Linked DNA regions of Homo sapiens. The protein of the gene in region 1 purifies or fractionates together with the protein of each later gene. This does not show direct contact. Each region holds a gene or a part of one and is shown in the gene's direction. Other genes may lie near its edges. The genes, in order: CDA, MPP2 and MTMR9.

What was found.
Region 2: the proteins of CDA (region 1) and MPP2 purify together in Homo sapiens (affinity purification with mass spectrometry; 3 studies listed by BioGRID and IntAct, with this or other methods). This does not show direct contact.
Region 3: the proteins of CDA (region 1) and MTMR9 purify together in Homo sapiens (co-immunoprecipitation; 3 studies listed by BioGRID and IntAct, with this or other methods). This does not show direct contact.

The regions. Positions count from the first base shown.
Region 1 is NC_000001.11:20,592,097-20,595,696, forward strand, and holds part of CDA (cytidine deaminase), read left to right. Parts: intron 1-3,600. UniProt on the Homo sapiens protein: This enzyme scavenges exogenous and endogenous cytidine and 2'-deoxycytidine for UMP synthesis.
Region 2 is NC_000017.11:43,900,735-43,904,561, reverse strand, and holds part of MPP2 (MAGUK p55 subfamily member 2), read left to right. Parts: intron 1-68; coding exon of another isoform or gene 69-101; coding exon 102-132; intron 133-2,997; exon of another isoform or gene 2,998-3,278; intron 3,279-3,827. UniProt on the Homo sapiens protein: Postsynaptic MAGUK scaffold protein that links CADM1 cell adhesion molecules to core components of the postsynaptic density. In CA1 pyramidal neurons, required for synaptic KCNN2-containing channel function and long-term potentiation expression.
Region 3 is NC_000008.11:11,287,816-11,291,642, forward strand, and holds part of MTMR9 (myotubularin-related protein 9), read left to right. Parts: intron 1-3,827. UniProt on the Homo sapiens protein: Acts as an adapter for myotubularin-related phosphatases. Increases lipid phosphatase MTMR6 catalytic activity, specifically towards phosphatidylinositol 3,5-bisphosphate and MTMR6 binding affinity for phosphorylated phosphatidylinositols.

The DNA.
Region 1 (3,600 bases):
AAGTGCTGGGATTACAGGCATGAGCCACCGCACCCAGCCAGCTCACACATTTTAAGCCAGGGATCATAAAACCCACCTTTCAGGATGACTGTGAACAGAACCAGATTCAGCTGGTATGCTGGTATGCCTGGCACGACACGGCATGGCAGGCAGCATTCACTCTGATCGGTTGGTGCCTGCGCTGAGTATGTAGAATTTCACCCCTGGTTGTGAGGCTTTAAATGAGTAAATGCTTATAAAGCATTCAGCGCATTTTCTGCCTCGTAATAAGAAGGTCACAAATGATAGCTGCTTCTGCTACCACTATTAATGCTATCATTATTCTTATTATCTGGAGGCAGATTGTGGAGGACTTTTGGAGGCCAAACAGAGACACTAAGATTTGAAGAGGTAGGAAGTAGGGAGCCAAGGAATGTTATTAAGAAGAAGAGTAACATAAAAGTGGTGTGTGATGACATTTAGTGTGACAGGTGCTCAGCAAGGGCGGGGACAGAGGAACAGTGTCAGGGTACAGTATCTGCTCCACTCACTGACCTGTCTGCAGTGTCAGCACACTTCCTGGCCTATCACTGGGCCTCTGTAAGGTTTGTTGAACACATGAATGAAAGGCTTCTACTAGGACTGGGACAGGTAGAATGAAGAGAAAGGAATGATCCGAGAGATATTGTGTGGGACACATGGACCGGGCCTGGCATGGGCAGTGTTACAAATAAAGGCTGGGTGCGGTGGCTCATGCCAGTAATCCCAGTGCTTTGGGAGGATGAGGCTGGAGGATCCCTTGAGTCCAGGAGTTCGAGACCAGCCTGGACAACATGGCAAGACGTCGTGTCTACAAAAAGTACAAAAATGAGCTGGATGTGGTGGCGTGCATCTGTGGTCCCAGACACTTGGGAAGCTGAGATGGAGGGATCACTTGAGCCCCAGGAGTTCGAGGCTGCAGTGAGCTGTAATCACACCACTGTACATCAGCTGGGCGACAGAATGAGACCCTGTCTCAAAAAATAAAAAACAAAATAAGAAATAAAGTAAAGGCACATGGCTTTAGGATCGCCAGCCAGGTGGCCCAGGTGAATGATGATGAGGCACTGACTGAGGTGAGGCATTGAAGGCATGGCTGGACTGTGTGCTGGGGACGTGCTGGGCAGGGACCAGCAGCAGTATTCGAAGCTACAATGGAGTGAGCTCACTAAGGACTTCATTTAGATGACCTCCTGTAATATCACAGCCACCTCATGATGGGGGACAATGAGTTTCACATGCACTAATCAGAGTACTTCCTATGGTCAACGTCAGAAAGCAACCAGAACCAGAGCGGGCAAGGGTAGTGCTTGTCTCAGGGTAGCTGGATCCAGGAACACAAACATCACCACATCCTTCTTTATCCTTCTGGGTGCAGGTCTCTTTCTCTTGTCCTGCAGGTGGGCTTTTTCTGGGCATCAGGGAACATGAGTGCAAGCAGTCTCTGGTTTCCATTCTTTTGTTTTTGTTTTTGTTTTAAAGGCAGGGTCTCTCTGCTGCCCATGCTGGAAGTACAGTGGCGCGAGCCTAGTTCACTGCAGTCTCAAACCCCTGAGTTCAAGCTATCCTCCTGTCTTAGCCTCCCAAGTAGCTGGGACTACAGGTATGTACCACCATGCCCAGCTAATCTTTTTTATTTTTATAGCGATGAGGTCTTGCTACGTTGCCCAGGTTGGTCTCGAACTCCTGACCTCAAATGATCCTCCCACCTTGGCCTCACACAGTACTGGGATTACAGGCATGAGCCACTGCACCTGGCCTGTTTATCATTCACACATTACTGAAGTAGGAAGTGAGGCCAGGTGCAGAATAGGGGGTGGATGCAGTAAGTTGGGGCTTGGAGCAGGGGGCACCTGGACACCCAGAGGAAGCCTGGTGTGGTTTCATGGGGTGAAGCAGAGCTGATCAGGAGGCAGAAACGGCACAGCTGAGTTTAGACACTGTGAGTTTACAGCTTATGGCAGAACAGGTCTGCCCAGGTCTGTGACTTTCTCCAGCTAAACACAAGACCGGCACAGGTGAAGGCTTCCCCCTCCAAGGCAGCTGGTGTCCCATCCAATTCAAAAGCAGGCCTGGCTGCAAAGACGGCCTTGCTATCGAGACTTCATAATGATCATCATTTTCTCTCTGTTACTCCCAACCCTGGCCAGGGCCTTGTGCCCCTCACAGATGGGCCACCCAGGATGGTGATTAACAACTACAGCAATTAGGTTTTCATGATGCACCTCGGGCTGGTAACATTCGTGACTGCTTGTGGGGAGAGCCGAGGGAGAGGTACAGAAAGAGGAGCTCACTGGTGAGGAAAGAGCTGCTAAGGGAAAAAAAAAAGTGAGGACACAAAGAGGAGAGTGGAGATGGCACAGAAGGAGGATTGAGAAAGCAAAGAAAATGGGCCAGGCGCGGTGGCTCATGACTGTAATCCCGGTGCTTTTGGAGGCCGAGCTGGGCGGATCACCTGAGATCAGGAGTTCGAGACCAGCCTGGCCAACATGGTAAAACCCCATCTCTACTAAAAATACAAAAAATTAGCCAGGTATGGTGGTAGGTGCCTGTAATCCCAGCTATTCAGGAGGCTGAAGCAGGAGAATCGCTTGAACCTGGGAGGTGGAGGTTGCAGTGAGCCGAGATCACACCACTGCACTCCAGCCTGGGCGACAGAGCGAGACGCCATCTCAAAAAAAAAAAAAAGAAAGAAAGATAAAAGAAAAGAAAGAAAGCAAAGAAAATGGTCCACGGAAACGGAGTCAGCTCCGGGCCTTGCACATGGCTGAGGCTCAGCCGGTGTTCGTGCAGCGCCGGGTGGGTGATGGGCAGGGAAGAGAAGGACCACCTGTAACCCTAGGGGCACTGCACGAGGTGTCCCTGGGCTCGTGGGGAGTATGCATCTGGCGATGAGACCACGACAGTGCCAGAAAGGGTCCCAGGATGGTGCCCAGACACAAGACTTCTTGGCTGTAGTTTCTGCCAACTCTGCTGGCACAACCCAAGGGATGGGAGGGTTTATCTTCTTCAGCTCATGACCTTAGGACAGTGGTCTCTCTCCCTCTTTCCTCCTCCTTTCCTCTCCGTCTGCCATTTAGGGAAAAAGCCACTTTACTCAACCAGCTGGGGTGAATTCTGAGAGGAACACACCACATTTTAGAAGACACTTGAGGATGTCTTGGTTAAGTAACCACTGAATCCAGCCTACCTTGGCTTAATTCTTAAATCTGAGTCTTCCATTTTCCCTCAAACCACCCCCTGCTGTTCTGATTCTGTCCCTGGTCTCCCTTTCTCTGCCTGGATGCATTTTCCTAGAAGCATTTCTTGGTGCCTGACACCAGCCCCTCTCTTCAGCAGCTGATGGACCCCAGGCCCCATCCCCCCAACACCACAGCATCTCTGGTCTAGGTAAGAGCAAGCTTCTCTAACCTGGGTCTTCAGCTTACAGCCCAGCTCCCATCACGCCCCGTTTCCCGCTGTTTCCCCCTGCCAAGGAACTTCAGTTAGTCCTCTCCACTGTCACTCAAAAGTGGCTCATTTTGTGACCAGCCTAGGCAACAGGGTGAAACCCCATCTCTACAAAAAATACAGAAATTAGCC
Region 2 (3,827 bases), on another chromosome or scaffold:
GCTCTTCCTATTCCCTTCCCCATTGCTTTGCCCTTGTATCTGCTCATCCTCCTCTCTCCCCTCTCCAGGAGAGACGTTTCAGAGCCCTTGCCTCCTTCACCATGCCGGTTGCCGCCACCAACTCTGAAACTGGTAAGAAGGGGGTGAGGATGTTAGCTTATTTCAGTGGTTCAGAGGGTGCCAGGCGAGGACTTAGGGGTGGGCACTTGCACAGCTCCAGATAAGAACCAACTGGCTCCACTGCTGTCCACCCTACCACTCAGCCATTCCTTCTGGCAGCTGCTGTGGCCATCTCCTCTGTGTGGGTTCCTGTGCTGGAACGGAGAAGAGAAAGAATAAGACCCATACCTGCTCCAGTGTAGGGCTGGAGCACAACTCACCTCCGTGGAGGGCAGGGGATGCATGCTCCAGAGGTGACCCGTACTATTGCTGGAGGGCAGTGGCATAGGACCAGGCCTTCAGGAGGTGGCCCCGGAGCTGGGCCTTGGAGAATGGCTTGGGGGTGGAGGGATTACAGCAGCACAGCCTGGGGCTGAGAAGTCCATAATCGCTGCCCACTAGGCCAGCATGTGCCAGAGGTGGACAGGGGGTACTGGGGACCAGGAAGCTGTGAGTGAAGGAACAAGAATACCAGGTTAGGATACCTGGACGTGGCTCTGTAGGAGGCATTAGGACAAGGGAGTGGGCCACTCAGACAAACTAGCAAAGCCTCAGTGGCAAACTGCTTAACCTCTTGGAGCTCGCATTTCTTCTTCTGTAAAGAGGCTGCTGTGAGACGCAAAGGCTGTAATGGGAGAGCACATTACTTTTAGGAATAGTCATAATTATTATGCTGCTGTTGCTGCCGCTGCCACCAAGTTGTTGTTGTTGTTTTTGAGACAAGTTCTGGCTCTTTAGCCTAGGCTGGAGTGCAGTGGCGCAAGCTTGGCTCACTGCAACCTCTGCCTACCAGCCTCAAGTCATTCTCCCACCTCAGCCTCCCAAGTAGCTGGGACTACAGGTGTGCACCACCATGCCCAGCTAATTTTTGTATTTTTCGTAAAGACAAAAATGTTGCCCATGCTGGTCTCAAACTCCTGAGCTCAAGTACTCCACCCGCCTCGACCTCCCAAACTACTGGGATTACAGGTGTGAACCACTGTGCCTGGCCTGAGTTGTTATTTTGGCATTAACCCTGTGTCCTTGAAACAGTCACCTCCTTTTGAAGACCTGAGATTTCCCTAAGATGAGATGATGGGACAAGATCAGTGTTCTTAACTTTTTTCTTTTTCTTTTTTTTTTTTTTTGAGATGGAGTCTCCCTCTGTTGCCCAGGCTGGAGGGCAGTGGTGGGATCTCGGCTCACTGCAACCTTCACCTCCCAGGTTCAAGTGATTCTCCTGCCTCAGCCTCCCAAGTAGCTGGGATTACAGGCACCTGCTATCATGCCCAGCTAATTTTTGTATTTTTGTAGAGACTGGGTTTCACCATGTTGGCCAGGCTGTCCTGACCTCAGGTGATCCACCTGCCTTGGCCTCCCAAAGTGCTGGGATTACAGGCATGAGCCACCACACCTGGCCTGTTCTTAATTTTATTGGTCCTGAGTCACTTAGAATCTGGTGACAGCAGTGAGCCCTCATCGTAGACATATACATCCATGCACAAAAGGTATATTCTACTCTAGGGGATCATGGATTCCCGTAGTGCACGCAGGACCCCAGAAGGTTAAGTTCCCTGTGCTAGAGGCCCTCTGAGGCCCGGGCAGCTGGGAACTGCTATGGTTCTGCTCTGAGTTGTCTGAACTTCCCCCTGCCTGGATGCCTCCCTCCCATGCAGCTCCTTCCCTTGCTCTAGGCCCCACTACTGCCTCTGCCAGAGGTTCCAGGGCTGCCACTTTGGGTAGAATGATTCCTCTGTGCCTCCTCTCCGAGAAAGTGAAGGGAGTGAGCCAGGGCCTAAACTGTGGTACACTTGTCCAGGAAAGGCCTCTTCTCCTTGCAGTGGAGGGATGGCACCAATGTCCCCAGCTTCTGCAGCATCAGAGGGCTCAGTCCCCCATCTCCTGTCCAGCCTGCTGGGCTCCCTGGGGTCTCCCTGCCTCTTTCAGCCTGCCTAGGCCCCACTGTAAGCTGCTTAGGCATTAATTAAACCCACCCCTGAGCCTGTGCTTAATGGCCTCTCCAGCCGGGACTGCCCAGTAAACCCACCAATAGTGCCTGACTGGGGCGTAGGAGGAGGAGCAAGCCCAGCAATTTGGCTTCGTTGTTGCAGACCACTTGATGGGGGCGTGGTGGGGGAGGATGGGGGACAGGGAGTGGAGCCTTGGGGTGTGGCGGTGGGTTCTGCTTCCTCAAAGGACTCCTGGGGCTCCTGCTCCCCTTCATGTTGTTCGAGGGGCTGCTCCTGGCTTCTCATATTCAAAGGAAGAAGTACAAAGTGTTTTTCTTCCTTCAGGCAGCCTCTGTCCTATCCTGAGCTACATTAGCTCCCAGCTTCAAAAATCTAATGGTGGATTCTGCCCCTTATTATCTGGTGGTCATTATACTTCCCACAGGATAGAGAGACAGCTGTGTCCCTGCCTCTGAGTTCAGGCTCCCCTTCCCTCCTCCTCCCCTGGGAGATCCCTGCCTTGGACTCTGCAAAGGGCAAAGCTAATAAGATCCTTTTTCCGCCCTTCCCCATGGGTCAGTATGGTTGAAGGGAGGGAAAGGGTATGGGTGTATTCCTCTTGCAGGGAGACCCCATATCTACTTTGGGTAGAGTCAGGGGCCCTTTTCCTGAGACTTGGGAGATAAATGGACAGTGGCACTGGGCTGAGAACTTAGAGATCCTGAACCTGGCATCTCCTGACCTGCAGCCTTGCTCCCTCTTCCCCTGTCACCAGATTCCCTCCCTTTTTTGGATCAAGGCTGGGATATGTGGCTGCTTTCAGGTGGAGCTGTCCCTTTAAATCTCTCCTCCATCCCTGGGTTACTGTCCTGGTGTGTAATTCTACTGTCATGGCAACCAGGGGTGCAATGCGACCTGGTGCCACTCCTCAGGGAATGTCTGAGTGGAGGCTGCAGTACCCTGATGGTGGCCTCTTGGGCACAAGATCTCAGAGGAATGGGGTCACCGGAGCGGAGCTGAGTCCTTCCCTTCTGCCCACACTTTTCCCTGTGTGCAAATGTGCCCTCATTTTTCCTTTCTGGGGAACTGAGTTCCAAGATGCCTGACTTGCTTCCTGGGCATCATCCCCTTCATTAAGAGGAAGAACTCATGGGAGATGGGGGAGGGGAAGAAGCTGCTGTGAGGCGAGGGGTAAGCAGGGCTGGGGCACCATCCCTACCCACAGCGATGCCACCTCCCCCACGTACCCTGCCTCCCAGTGGCTGACCAAGGGTGGGTAGGGGGAGGCGTCTGAGGCTTGAGGTATTTGCCCCATGCCCAAGTGAGGCTGCCTCCCGGTGGAGGGCTGAGTCGTTCTTGGGGACTTCCTTAGACTGAGGGACTATTGTAAAGGAAACAGGGCCTGGAGAGGGGACTGAGAGCAGAGGTCAGAGGGCATAGGGAGGAGGTGGCATGGGGTGTATTAGAGGAGGGGCTTCTAGAAAAGAGGGTACAGGGACAAGATGGGCCAAGACTTTTCTCCCTCGGGTCTCCTGAAGCTGGCTGTGAGGGGAGGGTCTCGGAGTACCGCGCCAGTCTTGAAGGGGCAGCATGCCTACCCCCTCCTCAAAACTTCCTGTTAGCCGCCTCCTCCCCATCCCCACCGACACTGACATGCTGGGGATCGGGCAATCTGTGGGACTAGGGCTCCCTCCCACCACTCTTCTCCCACCCGGGTTACCGCCTGCTCTGCACCGCGCA
Region 3 (3,827 bases), on another chromosome or scaffold:
TAATATATAATATATAACATTATATATTTTATTATATATGTTATATATTATATTATAATATATAACATATATAATACGTATTATATATAACATAATATGTATTATATATTATATAATATGTGTTATATATCATACGTATTATATACTATGTATTATATATGTATTATATAATATATATTACATATAATACATAGTATATAATACGTATGATATATAATATATATTATATAATACGTATTATATAATATATATTATATTTCACCTATATAATATATATAATTATTCACCTAATTATATTAAATAATTATTCACCTAAATATTCACCTAATTATTCAGCGAATAGGTGAATAATTATTTATTCACCTATTCACCTAATACATGTAATTATTATATATAATATATTAATAATTATAATATATAATAATAATAATTATATTATAATAATTATATATTATAATATAGTATAATATAGCATATAATATATATTATAATATGTATATATAATATATATACATAAATATATAATATATTTATATATATATAATATATATATAATGATGTCAGGTAATAAGGGCCAGGAAGGAAAGTAACGGAAGATGAGAGGATAAAGAGCACTGGGAGGCAGTTTCCTTAGAAAGGATTTCAGAGAAGGCAGGTGACATCTGACTACAGACCGGAATGAAATGAGGAAGCTAGAACTGTGAGTGTCTGGGGGAAGAGCATTGCAGCCAGAGGGAACAGCGAATACAAAGACTTGAGATGGGGAACATGCTTGGCATGTGCAGAGAAGAGCGAAGAGGCCAGTGTGGCTGCAGGGCAGGGAACAGAGAGTACAGGAAGTTGATGGTAGAGACTGGCTGGAGGGATAAGCAGTGGTCAGACCGTGGAGGGCCTGCAGGCCACAGTAATGGTTTTCATGGGAGCCCTTGGAGAGGTGAAAGCTAGGAAGCAGCAGCTGATAGATGTTTCAGAAGACAATTCTGGCTGCTGGCAGAAAATAAACTGTAGGGGGGCAAGACTGGAAGCAGCAGGCCCAGCTTGGAGAGTAGAGTAGTTCACATAAAAGATGATGGTAGGCCGGGCACGGTGGCTCACGCCTGTAATCCCAGCACTCTGGGAGGCCGAGGCGGGCAGATCACCTGAGGTCAGGAGTTCGACACAGCCTGGCCAGTATGGTGAAACCTCATCTCTACTGAAAATACAAAAAATAGCTGGGTTTGGTGGTGCATGTCTCTGATCCCAGCTACTCAGGAGGCTGAGGCAGGAGAATCACTTCACCCTGGGAGGCCGAGGTTGCAGTAAACTGAGATTGCACCACTGAACTCCACCCTGGGGTGACAGAGTGAGTCTCTGTCTCAAAACAAACAAACAAACAAACAAAAAACAGTAGTGTAGTCACAAGGAATCTGATTTGGGATGTGTTTTTGAAAGTGGAGCTGCCTTGCCTTGCTGGTGAATTGTAAATGAGGTGAGAAAGTCATTAAGGGTAACTCCTTCAGTTCTGCCTCTTACTAGACAAGTGCCTTTGGGCAAACTACTTAACCTCGTAGAAACTTAAGTTTAAATAATGCTTCACAAGTCTGTGGAATACTTTCATATATATCGCTTACATCATTTTATTTGATCCTTTCAACATGCAAGGTTGTATACAAGTTTTACAGTTATACCTGGTTTTTTTTTTAATGGACCTCAGAAAATTGAGTTACTACTACTCAGTTGATGACTCATCATTTTCATGATTGATTCCTTAAAAGGTTTCCTCTGTTGTTGATTTTCTTCCTCCCTAATTTTCACTCCCGTTTCCTGCCTCATCCACAATCCCTGTAGGCAACCACGTTAGTTGTTGCTATAAAATAGATAGCACTATTGTGTATGGGTGTGCGCACACATGCATGTGTGAGTTTAATTTGCCTAACTGGGATTATGTTGTAGATCTTGTTCTGCTTCTTAATATGGTGACACAATACTGTTTCAAGATCTCTTCATATTGCTGTGTGTACAACCATTTCACTGCTTCTGACAGCATAGGATTCCAAAGTATCTAAAAGAGCTTCCTTAACAGACCTTTTAGGTAACTTCCAACTCCCTGCTATCACAAACAACTCTGGTAAACATACTCATTCATGTCCCTTTATATAGTCTTGTGCCATAATTGCTCTGAGACTGCCCCTAGGATGGGATGGCGCCATAAAGTAGGTGCGTATCTCATTTCACAAACTAATTGCTTTCCAGGATGACAATTGCACATTGCCTTCCCATGATGGTGCAGGAGAGGGTACCTCGTCTCCACTTTCTTACCAACATTTGGTATTGTCTTTCTAATTTTTCCAGTCTGAAGATTGTGAAATAGTTATTGCTTTGTTTTAATTTGAATTTCATTAATTATTAGTGTTTAATTATCTTTGTATATGCTTGTGAGCAGTATACTTAAAATTTTTTTTTTTCCTTTTTGTGAATTGCCTAATTTCTGTGGTCTACTTTTAAACATTGGGTTTATTGTCCTTCTCATGTTGATTTGCATGGGTACCTTGTATACTCTGTGGGTGTTCATTCTCCATTTAGGCATTACGAATGTTTTCTAGTGTGTCACCCATCTGTTGTTTTTTTCTGTGGTGCCCTTTGTTGAACAGAAATCTTTACTTTTAATGCAGAACTTGCCAATGTTTTGCTTTATGGTGTGTGGCTTGTCTTAAGAACTCCTTCCCTGTCCCCAAATCACCAGGATGTTCTCCTACATTTTCTTCCATAATAGCTTCATAGTTTTACTGTTCATTTTTAGGTCTTTAATTTGGATTCTATCTTTGTTTCAAGTGTGATAAGAACCTATTTTTCTCCATAGAGCAAGCCAGTTTTCTTAATCCCATCACGTGACAACCCAACCTTGGCTGGTTTATGTCAAGTTATCCTATATATACGGGTCTGTTTCTGAGCTCTCTGTCATAATCCATTGGTTCATTAATCTGCTCTTTTGTCATCATCATATTCTCTTTCCTTCTGTGGCTTTGTGATGTGTCCAAAAATCGGATAGTGCTAGTTGCCCCGCTTTCGTTTTTTTTTTTTTTTTTTAAAGTTGACAACTATGTTTCGACCTTTATGTTTCCATGCAATTTTGGAAAACTTGCTATGTTCATGGGATTTTTAAAAGTCTTTAATAATAATTGAAGACTCAAAGGCAGTTGCAAAAATTGCACATAGAGGTTTTAGAATCGTCCACTCAGCTTCCCCTAATGTTGACCTGTTTTATAACTGTAGTGTAATCAAAATGAGGACAAAATTAGGACATTGACATTGGTGCAGTACTATTAACTAGACCACAGACTTTATACAATTTTCATAGGATTTTAAAAAAATGAATTGTTTTGGATTTATAGATTAATTGGAGTCAAATTGACATCTTGACATCCATGAACAATGTTACATTATTTATTCAGATCTTCCTTTAAGTCCCTTAGTGGAACTTTAAGATGGTGTATATGCTAGGTGCTGTACTAGGAGCTGAGGATATAGAAATTAATCAAACATGCCTTCTACCTGAAAAAACTAAGACCATTATAAGAAATAAACATATAAACTAGAAAGTTTAATAAAGTATTTTAAATGCTGTGATAGGGATGTATACAGGGCATGGATGGGACAATAAGGACAAAATGATAAAATAGAACTGAATCTGACAATTGATGTGAATCATAGGAGTTTTGTGGAGCTCTTATGTTTTTAAAACATATTTTTCTTGGCCCACTGTTCTATAAGTAACTGACTAGAAACATTGAATAAATGAATGGAGAATACCTTAATAGTTTATAGCATATTTATTCTGACATAAAGTA